Regions from separate parts of the Homo sapiens genome. Here region 1 is linked to region 2. A link means that fine-mapping ties the variant in region 2 to the plasma level of a protein whose gene starts in the linked region. Region 2 holds a variant in brackets. A gene starts in the other region. All regions are shown on their forward strands.

The links. PIP is the chance, under the fine-mapping model, that this variant and not a neighbour inherited with it causes the effect. The UK Biobank Pharma Proteomics Project read protein levels with antibody pairs (Olink). The fine-mapping took linkage between variants from a reference panel, not from the people measured, so its PIPs are less certain.
Region 1: it holds the start of EPHB4, and the variant in region 2 is fine-mapped to the plasma level of the EPHB4 protein (UK Biobank, PIP 0.97).

What each region holds. Positions count from the first base shown.
Region 1 is chr7:100,826,129-100,828,628 of GRCh38, forward strand. It overlaps EPHB4 (EPH receptor B4), which reads right to left and starts at 1,395. Exons shown (of 17, transcript NM_004444.5): 1 at 851-1,395. The coding sequence starts at 902. It also overlaps a transcript of SLC12A9 not described here. RefSeq lists an enhancer at 1,399-2,194.
Region 2 is chr13:104,631,116-104,634,145 of GRCh38, forward strand. No RefSeq gene overlaps it. Among named protein-coding and RNA genes, the nearest start is that of DAOA, 830 kb to the right of the region's middle. The variant C/T (reference allele first, on the strand shown) is at 1,574.

The DNA.
Region 1 (2,500 bases), not on the chromosome of region 2:
GGGACACAGGAGAGTTTCTAGGGCTCTTGGCTCCCCCTTTAGGGGACCAGGAGGGACAGCGATCCATGGCCAAAGAAATGCTTGGAGAGACCAGGAGGTGGGAGATAGACTGGGTTAGTTAGGGCGATGTGGGGGCTGTGTAGGTCAGTTTCTACCTGGGGGCTGTGTAGGTCAGTTTCTACCCGCTCCTAGGTCTCAAGGGAAGCCCGGGACTCACCTGGGGCCGGGGTCTAGACCGCATTTAAAGGGATGGGGTGCAGCCTGTAGAAACCAAGGAGCCACCCTATACCAGGGGCAGGAGCAGTGGGCGGGAGAGCGGTTTGGGGGTTTGCTGTGTGAATGCAAAGGAGGCCATCCTGTTGCAGGAGTGTGGAACTGGAGGATCAAGGTGTGATCGCTAAGGAATTGGCGCTGGGGGTCGTTTTAGGGCCTAGCACGAAAAGTTGTGCCTTGTCTGCTGTTGCTTCTCCAGAAACCTTCCCTCATGTACGGCGGGAGGTGGGACTGGGACAGAAACTTTGCAGATAGTTTTGAATAGTGGGGTAGGGAGGAAAGGAAAGGCAGCCAGGGGCGTATGTAATCAGCAGTGAGAGTTCGGGGAGCCCGGGCAGGGGAATGTCCCGGGTCGTAGCCAGACTCCATCTCTTTCCCAAACAAAAGAAAACTCCACTACCCGTCGGGCGCCTCTTCCCCGCCCCCCTCCCGTTCCAGCACTATCGGTCCGAAGTGTTTGGGACTGCAGTGCCCGGGTAGGGGTAGTCAGAGGCCGGCCCCTCCACTCCGAGGCCCAGATGTTGGGGGGGAGGTCCCAGGAGTGACGGGGTGCGCCCCCCCCCGCAAGGAAACTCACCTTCCAAAGCTGCGGCCAACGAAGCCCAGCAGAGCAGCACCCGGAGCTCCATGGCGCCGCCTCACTCGGGTAGGATCCGAACTGAGTTTGGGGGGCCCTCGCCCCCCCAGGTCTGACTCTCCCTGGGCGGGTGGACGCCGATACTCCGCGCGGGACTCCTCGTCGGGGCCCTCAGCGCGGGCCCATGCGAGCGTGCGGGGCACCGGGCGGCGGCGCCAAGTGTGGCCCCGCGTCTGTGCCGCGCGCGCGGGCGGCGGGCCCGGAGCGTGCTGGCAGTGGCCGCGCCGGGCGGGCGCGCAGCAAGACGTGGCTGGAGTTGGGGTCCCTCCGGGGCCTCGGGGTCCCGCCCCGGGTGGCGGGGGCTGAGCCGGCCGCTCGCGGTCTCCCCCCCTCCCTGGAGTGGCTCTGCTCGCGCCGCCGGGCCGAGTGCTCTCCTCGCGGGCGGGGATGGTGGGAGCCCGAGCGGGGACGGAGCGGGAGGGAGGGAGACTGCGGCGCGGAGCCGGGCGGGCCGGGCCGGGCAGGGGCTGAGCTGCGCTGGAACTGGGCCGGGCGGCGCCGGGCCCGGGAGGGAGGGGCGCGCGGGGGGCGGGGGCAGCTCTCCCAACGCGGGGGCTCCGCGAGTGAGCCCCGGGCGCGCTGATTGGAGCTCACGCTACTGAATAATTCATGAGGGAAGCGGAGAGGGGCACCGAGTGGAGCAGGTCGGGAAGTTGAGAGAAAGTTTGGAGAAGGGGGAGGGGCGGCGGGTGAGGAACCCCGGGACCGCCCAGATGTGCGCCGTGGCGGTGCGCGCTGTCCAGGACCGAGCATGTCGGGGCTGGGGCCCAGGGACCCCCGGGACAGGCCCGAACCCGGCTGGCACCAGGGAGCAGAGAAAACACACACCCAGCAGCAACACGGAGGGCCGCCCAGGCGTGCACGTAAATGTTCACCGCGCACACAAAGCCCGCTCTGACCTTGCTGCGGACTCTAGATGCCGCTCTTGGATGCGCCCACCACCCTCTAGTGGGCGCAGGGACTGCGTTTTGGGGGAAAAGGAAGGAAAAGGGAGTAGAAGCTTTGGAGAATTGACGGCCGCCCAGGGGGCCTCAAGGAGCAATCCCAGTTTGGATAGCCTTGCAGCGAACGTTCACACAGTCACCCCATAAACATTCAGTGTTGGGGACCTACTGTGCGCGCAACCAAGCCCTGAAAAATGTCCAGAGGAGGCGCGCACTAAGCTGCGCTAGGGAGTAGAGAAAAATCGAGGAAACAACGGTAAAGAAAAGGTGGGTGTGGCGGGCGCGGTGGCTCACGCCTGTAGTCCCAGCATTTTGGGAGGCAGAGGCAGGCGGATCATTTGAGGTCAGGAGTTCAAGACCAGCCTGGCCAACATGATGAAACCCCGTCTCTACTAAAAATACAAAAATTAGCTGGGCATGGTGGCGCGCGCCTGTAATCCTAGCTACTCGGGAGGCTGAGGCAGGAGAATTGCTTGAACCGGGACCTAGGAGGCGGAGGTTGCAGTGAGCTGGGAGCTGAGATCGCGCCACTGCACTCCAGCCTGGGCTACAGAGTGAGACGAAATCTCAAAAAAAAAAAAAAAAAAAAAAAAGGTGGGTGTGTCCGAGAGGGTGAGGGGTCCGGCTAGATCTCCAAATCGCCCTT
Region 2 (3,030 bases):
CTAGAACTGCTGACCTCAAGTGATCTGCCCACCTAGACCTCCCAAAGTGCTGGGATTAGAGGGGTGAGCCAGTGTGCAGGGCCCATATTAGTAAGTTCTAATTTTTTAATTAATTTCTATTTCTGATTGGTTTTGTTTTTCATTCTCATAAACAACACTATATAAAGAACAACCTAAGGACAAATCATAAGATTCATCATTACTTGTTAATAGTACTTATTACACACTATCAAATTGTCTTCTGACAGGTTGATATAATTTATGCTTCAATAAGTGTTAGGGAAAAATGACCATTTATTTTTCTGAAATTCTGTTGGCACTAATTATTATATATTTTTAATTTTATAGATTTGATAGACACATATTTTGTGTATTGTGTAATTGTATTTCTTGGATAATTGGCTGTGACCATTGGATTCATATAGTTATTTGGGTCTTGTGGTGTGTGTATATGTGTGTGTGTGCATGCGTGTGTGACAAATGTTCTTATGATTCAATTTCCATTGATATACTTTTCTTGATGTTTTGAAATGTTTACATATTGATAATTTTTTGATATTTCTCATACGTATATTTTCTTCAGTTTGCTTAATACTTTTTAAACTGTTGATCATGATTATTTTTGCCAGATAGTTTTTAAATAGTAAAATTTATCAAATTCAAGTCTTTATTGTATTGGGTTTACATATATACTAAGTTTCTTAAAGCAACACAAGTTATGAACTACCCGAAAAAAAAGCTCTCTTCCCTCAAAATTTTAATAGCAACAGAAGCCGTCTATAAAATGTTGGTTATAATTATGGTTTTAATCAAAATTAAAGAGTGCTGTGATCTAAATACTCTGTATTTCTCCAAATAAAGACAAAAAAAGAAGAAAAACGATGGAATCATTATCAGTCCTGTGTTCTACAATATCTCTTCATTTTTTTTCTGTTTTGTCTGTTTCAAATGCTTCATTAGAAATTTCTTCTAAAATAAAGAAAATAAGCCCACACACACATATATTACACTATATAATATTATAAAAGTAATGAATTTTTTCACGAGGTAAAATCAGGTTTAAAATATAAGGCATTATAAAACTAGAAATACTGTTTTAAAAAGCAGTATTTTAAAAAGATTTTTAAATAATAAAATCTTAATTTTATTATTTAAAAAAGGAAAGTTATAAAAAGCAGTATTTTAAAAAGATTTTTAAATAATAAAATCTTAATCTTATTATTTAAAAAGATTTTTAAATAATAAAATCTTAATTTTATTATTTAAAAAGATTTTTAAATAATAAAATCTTAATTTTATTATTTAAAAAGATTTTTAAATAATAAAATCTTAATTTTATTATTTAAAAAAGGAAAGTTATAGTGTAAGCAGTCTGTCAAAAATTCAAGTAATTTTGTCAATAGAAAACATGTGTCCTGCTATTTTAAGAGACACAGGTATATGAATCATGCCCATGTATTTTATATATATATATATATATATATAATATATATGCCTGTGTGTATCTAATTCACATATGAGATAATCAAAGACAGAAGTTCAGAGACAGAAGAGTGAGATGACACATAAGAGT[C/T]AATGGCCACTTCTTAGATCATCTTCAGAAACACTCCAAATATAATTACCTTCGTCTTCATTAAACATTAAAAATAATAAACATTGCCTTGTTTTCTTGTTCCTGCATGATATCAGTTTACACTTTAAAAGGCATTGCAAGAAATTATGAATGAAAAGATAACACAGTGGCTTTCAACTGCCTCAGTAAACCATGCACACTGCCAACATTTTTGTCACCCATAATTCTCCCATAAACATGGGCCTCTCCTTTCATTATGCAGGCTGTCATGCTTTATTGAACCACATCATTTCACCTAATTAAAATAAGCAGTATGTTGTTTCCTCCCCCACTCTTTTTTTCTTTAGCTGGACAAATGCCAGTAATTATATTTAGAGTATCCTAAGTGGACACCACATTAAATATTCATTTTGGTGCTCCTCTGCACAATCAAACATCTCTCCTGCTGCTCTTTTAAATGTCAATATTCATTTTATTTATAAGATCTAAAAAAAAGTGCACTTTTAAAAGTAAAAATGTGTAAGGTTCATTGAGTTGTTTGTTATGCCAGCAAAGTAGGTTTGTTAGCTTCCATAAAGTTTGTAGGGTAACTTAACGAAGTAAAATCAGGTTTAAAATGTAAGGCATTATAAAACTAGAAATACTGTTTTAAAAAGCATTCTCTTTCTTTGAACCACTGAATCTCAATTTTATTATTAAAAAATGAAAGTCATAGTGGAAGCAATTTCTCATAAATTCAAGTAATTTTGTCAATAGAAAACATGTGTCCTGCTGTTTTAAGCACAGGTATATGAATCACGCCTGTGTAAGCAAGTAGTTGCTAAATTGTTTAATTTTTTTTTAAGCTAATAAAAGTTTGTTTTAGGCAGCCAGTCTTATAGGAAAACATTTTATTCTCTCTTTGTTTCTTCCTTATAATAAAAGTGATGGGTCTTTAACCTTATCACTTTCTGTGCTCGAATCATATTGCAACTACTCACCATCATTTTGGAAAGAAATTCTAGTATAATTCAGCCGAGGTGGTAGTGGATACACAGCTGAAATCCTGCATAACTGCAGCTCATCCTGCAAAGATACTTTCTAAGAAATTTCTACAAAATAAGGGCGAGCTTCCCTTTGTGCTTGAAATCAATGTAATTTTCTGTGAGAGAGGAAACGCTCCTCAACAGTATGCTCTTTGAGTTGAAAAAGGCAAAAGACGTATAGCCTAGCACCTACCAGCAATTCTGTCACCCTGACTGTAACTTCAGTTTCATCTGGTTTTGCATAAGGCCATAGCAGTTTCCTGATTCACAGGTAAACTAGCCCCAGGAAGGCACCTATGAGAATTATAGCAGCTGTAGGTTAATTTCCTATTAAAACAAGATGGTTGTGTAAACTAGGCTTAAAATTTACCACATCAACACCTTTTTATTCCATTTGTTCGCTTCTATTAACAGTTCTTACCTTGCAACTGA